Linked DNA regions of Homo sapiens. The protein of the gene in region 2 interacts with the protein of the main gene of each other region in a pairwise test. Each region holds a gene or a part of one and is shown on either strand. Other genes may lie near its edges. The genes, in order: IFFO1 and ACAP1.

Evidence for each region.
Region 1: the proteins of ACAP1 (region 2) and IFFO1 interact in a two-hybrid assay, tested with the Homo sapiens proteins (one large-scale study listed by BioGRID and IntAct).

What each region holds. Positions count from the first base shown.
Region 1 is NC_000012.12:6,542,425-6,546,234, forward strand, and holds part of IFFO1 (non-homologous end joining factor IFFO1), read right to left. Parts: intron 1-3,810. UniProt on the Homo sapiens protein: Nuclear matrix protein involved in the immobilization of broken DNA ends and the suppression of chromosome translocation during DNA double-strand breaks (DSBs).
Region 2 is NC_000017.11:7,334,921-7,339,528, reverse strand, and holds the start of ACAP1 (arf-GAP with coiled-coil, ANK repeat and PH domain-containing protein 1), read right to left. Parts: upstream 3,001-4,608; 5' UTR 2,795-3,000; coding exon 2,742-2,794; intron 2,267-2,741; exon of another isoform or gene 2,218-2,266; coding exon 2,160-2,217; intron 1-2,159. UniProt on the Homo sapiens protein: GTPase-activating protein (GAP) for ADP ribosylation factor 6 (ARF6) required for clathrin-dependent export of proteins from recycling endosomes to trans-Golgi network and cell surface.

The DNA.
Region 1 (3,810 bases), on a different chromosome or scaffold from region 2:
CTGCCTCTCTTTGTTTTGGGTACAAAGGGCAGGGGCCGCAAGGGGAAGCAAAATGAAACTTCCTGGAGATGACGTTCGTGACTGCCTGAGTGAAGAGAACGGGGAGGATACCAGCTGCCATAATGTGGATTGGACAGAGAGGGTGGGAACTTAGAGAAAGAAGGAAACAGGTTACAGGGCCAGACAGCAGAGATGGTCAGGACAGTGACATTTGGGGTGAGATGGCGGCTGGCTGGGTGAGAAGCCCTAGTGGGGACAGCTTCCCTGGCAGGCTTGGATCCACAGCTGGGGCCCCACAGTAGTGGGAGGAGCAGGACACGGTGACTGTTCAACCCAGGGGGAAAATACAGTGCCACCAGCCCTTGTTCAGATCAGCTGCCTACACCCCAATTTCTCCACCTTGGAAGAACCGGAGTGCAGGGAGCTGGGTTCTGGAACCATCACTCAGGGAGACTGGGAAGAAGGAAATGAACCAAATATATTCTACTGAAATACAAGGCTAGTACTGCCACCAGTAGTCTCTGCATATGTCTATGTCCCCACTTAATTCACAAATTTACAGCAGGAACAAGGTCAGGAGGTGAACGTGCATGTCAGGAGATGTCCTTGACAAGCCACCTTGAAAACTGCAGGCTCGCTGTGTGAACAGACTTGGGGGTGGGACGGGAGGAGACAGAGAGAGGTGAGGAGCGGTGGGGAAGAACTGCCTCCCGCCCACCACTCTGGGCCTTGGCTTTACCTTGCTCCATCTTAGTGACCCTGAGAGATCAAAGGTCACAAAGATAAAGGCACCTTGGGTACTCCTGAGGTCAGCAAGTCCTCCTAACGGTTCCCCTAATGCAGAAGTCCCCAAACCCCAGGCCACGGACCAGTACCTGTCTGTGGCCTGTTAGGAACCAGGCCAAATAGCAGGAGGTGAGCAGTGGGCAAGTGAGTGAAGCTTCATCTGTATTTACAGCTGCTCCCCATCACTGGCATTACAGCCTGAGCTCCACCTCCTGTCAGATCCGCGGCGGCATTAGATTCTCACAGGATCCTGAACCCTACCTTACGTGAACTGTGCATGCGAGGGATCTAGGCTGTGTGCTCCTTATGAGAATCTAATGCCTGATGATCTGTCACTATCTCCCATCACCCCCAGATGGGACCGTCTAGTTGCGGAAAACAAGTTCATGGCTCCCACTGATTCTACATTATGGTGAGATGTATAATTATTTCATTATATATTATAATGTAATAATAATAGAAATAAAGTGCACAGGCCGGGTGCGGTGGCTCATGCCTGTAATCCCAGCACTTTGGGAGGCCGAGGTGGTGGATCACCTGAGGTCGGGAGTTCGAGACCAGCTTGACCAACATGGAGAAACCCCATCTCTACTAAAAATACAAAATTAGCCAGGCGTGGTGGCACATGCCCGTAATCCCAGCTACTTGGGAGGCTGAGGCAGGAGAATTGCTTGAGCCCGGGAGGCGGAGGCTGCAGTGAGCCAAGATTGCGCCATTGCACTCCAGCCTGGGCAACAAGAGCAAAACTCTGTCTCTAAAAATAATAATAATAATTTTTAAAAATAGTAATAAAGTACACAATAAATGTAATGTTTGAATCATCTCAAAATCATTTCCCCCGGGTCAGTGGAAAAACTGTCTTCCACAAACCAGTCCCTGGTACCAAAAAGGTTGGGGACTGCTGCCTAAAGTCATTGCACTGGGAGAGAGGAGGAGTCAGATGATTTGAAAATACTTTTTTTTTTTTTTTTCCTGAGATGGAATCTTGCTCTGTCACCCAGGCTGTGGTGCAGTGGCACAATCTCAGCTCACTGCAGCCTCCACCTCCCAGATTCCAGCAATTCTCCTGCCTCAGCCTCCCAAGTAGCTGGGATTACAGGTGCCCACCACAATGCCTGGCTACTTTTTGTATTTTTAGTAGAGACGGGGTTTCACATGTTGGTGGCCAGGCTGGTCTCACACTCCTGACCTCAAGTGATCTGCCCGCGTTGGCCTCCCAAAGTGCTGGGATTACAGGCGAGAGCCACCACGCCCAGCCAAAAATAGCTTAAAAGGCATGATTCCATTTAAGATATTATTTTCGTTCTTTCAGATCATGTTTTACACTGGGCACTTGAGGTCCAGGGAAGACTAGGGAGAGATGGCAGCCCGAGATCTCTTCTCACGAAGATGGCCGCACAAAGGCCCCTAGTTGGTTGAAGGCACAGTGAAAACACAAACCTTAAATCCACCATCCAAAAGAGGGAGACAAGAATCAGGTCAGGCAGGAGGAGGAAACAGTGAGCCGCGGTAGACGGGAGGGTGGGGAGTACTGGTTTCCCTTGCCATGTCTTTAGCTAGCAGCACAAATCCAGGAAACCTCATCTACCTGGCCAAGAAAACCAGGTTTGATGCAGGAGCAGGACAGTTTGATGTGTGTTGGGAGAATGAGTATATAGGAAAATAATTTCTCGACTTCCTTCTCAAACACCTCCAATGTGACAGCAATAAGAATAAAGTCAAGGCCGGGCGCGGTGGCTCACGCCTGTAATCCCAGCACTTTGGAAGGCCGAGGCGGGTGGATCACGAGGTCAGGAGATCGAGACCATCCTGGCTAACATGGTGAAACCCCGTCTCTACTAAAAAATACAAAAAATTAGCCGGGCGTAGTGGCAGGCGCCTGTAGTCCCAGCTACTCTGGAGGCTGAGGCAGGAGAATGGCGTGAACCTGGGAGGTGGAGCTTGCAGTGAGCTGAGATCGCGCCACTGCACTCCAGCCTGGGCGACACAGCGAGACTACGTCTCAAAAAAATAAATAAATAAATAAATAAATGAAAAGAATAAAGTCACTCTCTCCTTATCCACTGGTTTCACTTTCCACGGCTTCAGGTACCCAAGGTGAACCTTGATCTGAAAATATTAAATGAAATATTCCAGAAATAAACAATTCCTAAGTTTTAAATTGCACGCTGTTCTGAGTGGCCTGATAAAATCTCACTCTCTCTGCCGGGCGCGGTGGCTCACGCCTATAATCCCAGCACTTTGGGAGGCCGAGGTGGGCGGATCATGAGGTCAGGAGATCGAGATCATCCTGGCTAACACGGTGAAACCCCATCTCTACTAAAAAATACAAAAGAAATTAGCCGGGCGTGATGGCGGGCGCCTGTAGTCCCAGCTACTCAGGAGGCTGAGGCAGGAGAATGGCGTGAACCCAGGAGGTGGAGCTTGCAGTGAGCCGAGTTCAAGCCACTGCACTCCAGCCTGGGTGACACAGCGAGACTCCGTCTCGGAAAAAAAAAAAAAAACCTCACTCTATCCAGACCAGGACATGAACCCTCCCTCTGTCCCAAGGATCCACACTGTCTATACTGCCTGCCCATTAGTTACTTAGGAGCCATCTCAGTGATGAGATTGACTGTCGTGGTATGGCAGTGCCCGTGTTCAAGGAACCCTTATTTTTACTTCATAATGGCCCCAAAGCACAAGAGTAGTGATGCTGGCAATTTGGATATGTGAAAGAGAAGCCAAAATATGCTCCCTTTAAGTGAAAAGGTAAAAGTTTTCAACTTAATAAGAAAAAGAATCCGATGCTGAGGTTGGTAAGCTCTACAGTAAGAATGAATCTTCTATCCGTGAAATTGTAAAGAAGGAAAAAGAAATTTGTGCCAGTTTTGCTGTCACACCTCGAACTGCAAAAGGTACCGCCACAGCGCACGCTAAGTGCTTAGTTAAGATAGAAAAGGCATTGAATGTGTGGGTGGGAGACATGAACAGAAACACGTTCCAGTTGACAGCAACTGGACCCAAGCTATCAGGAGGTCAGTG
Region 2 (4,608 bases):
AAGCAATTCTCCTGCCTCAGCCTCCTGAGTAGCTGGGATTACAGGTGCGTGCCACCACGCCTGGCTAATTTTTGTATTTTTAGTAGAGATGGGGGTTTCATCATGTTGGTCAGGCTGTTCTCGAAGTCCTGACCTCGTGATCCACCTGCCGCAGCCTACCAAAGTGCTGGGATTACAGGCGTGAGCCACTGAGCTTGGCTAGAGTTTATTGGGGTTTTTTGTTTGTTTGTTTTTGTTTATTGAGACAGTCTCACTCTGTCGCCCAGGCTGGAGTGCAGTGGCACGACCTCCACTCACTGCAAGCTCCACCTCCCGGGTTCGCGCCATTCTCCTGCCTCAGCCTCCTGAGTAGCTGGGACTACAGGCGCCTGCCGCCACACCCGAATAATTTTTTGTATTTTTAGTAGAGACGGGGTTTCACAGTGTTAGCCAGGATGGTTTCGATCTCCTGACCTCGTGATCCGCCCACCTTGGCCTCCCAAAGTGCTGGGATTACAGGCGTGAGCCACCACACCTGGCCGAGTTTATTGTTAATTGTAATGTGACACTATTAATGTCCTGGTTTTAATAATGTACTAGTATTGTATAAGATGTCACCACTGGGGGAAGCTGGGTGATGGGTACATGAGACCTCTCCTCACTAGTCTCCTGAGTCAATAATTTACTCAAAATAAAAAATTCAGGCCAGGTGTGGTGGCTCACACCTGTAATTCCAGCACTTTGGGAGGCTGAGGTGGGAGGATTACTTGAGGCCAGGAGTTCCAGACCAGCCTAGGTAACATAGGGAGACCCCATCTCTACAAAAAATAAATTTAAATTTAAAAAAGCCAGGCGTGGTGGCATGTGCCTGTAGCACAGCTACTGGGGAGGTTGAGGAGGGAGGATCACTTGAGCCCAGTATTGAAGCATCTGGGATCACAGCTGTGGCCACTCCATCCAGTCCATTGTTTAAAATTATTATTTGTAGGCCGGGTGCGGTGGCTTAAGCCTGTAATGCCAGCACTTTGGGAGGCTGCGGCAGGTAGATCATTTGAGGTCAGGAGTTCAAGACCAGCTTAGCCAACATGGTGAGACCCTGTCTTTACTAAAAATACAAAAAGAAAAAAAATTATCCAGGTGTGGTGGTGCACACCTGTAATCCCAGCTACTTGGGAGGCTGAGGTAGGAGAATCACTTGAACCTGGGAGGTGGAGGTTCCAGTAAGCCGAGATCGCACCACTGCACTCCAGCCTGGGTGACAGAGCGAGACTCCATCTCAAATAAATAAAAATAAAAATAAAATTATTATTTGTAGAGATGAGGTCTCACCATGTTGCCCATAAAACAATGTTGCCCACTAAATTTGTGACAATTTGTTACACAGCAATAGAGAACTAATATATAGCAAGCAAATACATAATGTGTCAGAGGTAAATGTTGCAGAGAAAAGTAAAGCGAAGTAAGGGGAATGAGAGAGCATTTGAGTGTGTATTTGTGTGAACATGCTGTTTGATAGAGTGCTCAGGGGACACCTTACTGTCTTGAATTGAAACGTTTCACTGGTTTGTCTTCTAGTCAGCCTTTGGGCTCCGTGGGAGCAGAAATGATCTTGTCCTCCCTGAATGCCCAGGGCCTGGCACAATGCAGGAGCTCAAGAGCAGAACAAGGAAGTCCAAAATTAAGTCTTTTTTTTTTTGACACAGAGTCTCGCTCTGTCGCCTAGCCTGGAGTGCAGTGGTGCGATCTTGGCTCACTGCAACCTCCGCCTCCCAGGTTCAAGTGATTCCTCTGCCTCAGCCTCTTGAGTAGCTGGAGCTACAGATGGGTGCCACTAAGCCTGGATGATTTTTGCATTTTTAGTAGAGATGGGGTTTCGCCATGTTAGCCAGGCTGGTCTAGAACTCCTGACCTCAGGTGATCCATTCACCTTGGCCTCCCAAAGTGCTGGGATTACAGGCATGAGCTACCATGCCTGGCCCAAAAGTAAGTCTTGTTTTCCAAGATCCTGAGCTTCTTGTCGGTACAGAACCACCTTTTTTGCTTCTCTGCAGTCTCCAAAATATCTCCCCTACACAGTATTCAATAATCCCTGGGATGCATTCTGTGTCTCCAGCTTTCTCCCTGGCCCTACCCCTCTCAACCTAATCCACTCCTGGGTCACCTCTCCATGTCAGGGTCACCTTTTCCAGACGGGTCTCCAATTCTGACACTTCGGCTTCCACCAGCTCAATAGAGGCTCTGGGAAAGAGGGGGTCATGGGAAGAGAGCTTGGGTCCATCTGGTCTGTCTGCCTCATCAGGCGGGATGGAGTCGCAGGGCGGTGGGTACGGAGGAGAAAGCTGCAGAGTTGAGAGGCTCGCCCCCCACCCACCTACTTGTGCTCTGCCCGCTCTGCAGTCTGGGAGCTACCACAGCCCAGGCCAGAGCAGGAAGGGTAGAAGGAGGGTGGATGTGGCCAGGGCAGGAAGTTGCTAACCGCCCCAGAGCAGGTGCTGGGGGAGGGGCAGGGGTCCCACTGAGAGGCCAGAGGGAATGCCAGCTCTAGGGGTGAGGGAAACTGCAGAGGCCAGGAGGAGCATGCAGGGGCAGAGAGCATTGGAGTACCCTGCTTTCACAGCTGGGGTACCACTTTGGCCCACAGGCTCGCTCCTGCCTCTTAGAGGCCTGCTCCCTGGAAGGAGACCTGGCCTGGGGAAAGGTGTGTGTGTGCTGGGGGTGTTAGACTTTCCCCTCCTTAGCCCCCCAGACCAGTTCACACTTACCGGAAACGGGGTGAGTCCTTGAGACACTCCTCGAAATCCAGCTTGACCGTCATCTCAGCTTGCCTGCTGTGGGGCCAGCGGGCCCTGGAGGCCGGGCCCCTGGGGATGCAGGTGGAGGCACTTTCTGTCCCAGGAAGGGGAGATGAGGGGGAAGGAGGAGAGGGACCTCCGCGGGGAAGGGCCTGGGGGCACAATTCTTTCCCCAAGGGGAAAGGGGTGTCCTAGGAGGAGCTCTCACCCCACACTTCCAGGCAGTGCTGGGAGGGGCAGGGGCGGGGCCTGGGCGGAGGATGGGGGCCTGAGATCAGAGAAGCCACAGCCCCACCCTCAGAGACGATCTGCCAGCTCCTTCCTCCTGGGGCTCTAGCCTCTGTTTCTTTCTCTCTTCGTGGTTATCTTGGGGGCCTGGCAGATCTAGGTTCAAATCCTGGCTCTGTCACTTAGAGGTTATGTGCCCCTGGACGAGCTCTCTGATTCCTCAGTTTTCTCATCTGGAAGATGGGAATGATAACCCCTTCCTCCAGGGCTGTACGAAGTGAAGAAGGTGATAGCAGTAAATTCATGGTTCACTAAATTTATTTATTTATGAGACGGAGTCTCCCTCCATCGCCCAGGCTGCAGTGCAGTGGCGCGATGTCGGCTCACTACAACCTCCGCCTCCTGGGTTCAAGCAATTCTCCTGTCTCAGCCTCCCGAGTAGCTGGGACTACAGGCTCCTGCCATCATGCCCGGCTAACTTTTTGTATTTTCAGTAGGGACGGGGTTTCACCTTGTTGGTCAGACTTGTCTCGACCTCCTGACCTCAGGTGATCCACCCACCTCGGCCTCCCAAAGTGCTAGGATTACAGGCGTGAGCCACTGTGCCCAGCTGGTTCACTATATTAATTGCATCAGTCATTGTCATCCTGCTACAGCTTGGGCCTGCTCCTGTGGAGTCCAGTACCCCGGACTGCTCCCAGCTTTCTTCGTTTTGCCGTCATATTCATGGTTCCTGTGTGTGAACTCCCCTTCCTCCTCCCCTCTCCTCAACGACTGAGCAGGCCCAGCCTGAGCACCCGATTCACAGCTCCCAGACTCTTGCTCTTCTGCTCTTTATTTCTATTCATAGGGTGGTCATGAAGGGAAGGTTGCCCCCACTCCGCCCCCAACCAGCCCCATTTTCCATTGTTTGCTTTCCTTTTCTTGAGTCCATTGAAGTCCCAGGGTTTCATCTGGAGAGAAGAGTTTGAGTTCATGGCTTTCTCGTAGCAGGCATGAGATCTTGTCCATGTGACTCTGGATCCCCTAGAACCTCCCCACTCAGCTCCTCTACCTCCCTGGCCAGTGTATGCATCCCCTTGCCTCTGCCCAGGCTCAGTGTGCCAGGCTGTGCTTGTTCTGGCTTGAGGAGTTGGGGTTGCTTCCACTCTCCCTCTCTGAACTCCTTGGGCTTTGCCAGCTCAGCCCCCCAGCCACCAGCTGGACACCACTTGAGACTCACTGTCTTTGGAGGACAGAGAAATACCTGGAGTGGGGTGGTGTGGCAGAGGAGTGAAGGAGGAGGCATGGAGCCAGTGTGTGGTGCCAAGCTGGAGGGGGTCCCAACCGCCTCTGAGTCTCCCTGGTTCCTCGCCTGTCCAATGTGGACCTTGGACTTGAGGCTGTTCAGGGCCTCTCCTTCCACCTGTTGCTGATGTACTGGCCTGAAAGAATTGGAGGGCTGGGAGATGGGAGCTTGCCAAGAGACAGCCCCAGGGAGATGGTGGCCTGGTGCCCTCAACAGGCTGCAATGTTGTCATTGTTGCCATCAGGGAGCTCTCCGTGGCCTTGTGATCCCTAAAGGGGCCTCCCATGTGGTCCAGTAGGTGGACTTCAGTGCTTACGGGGT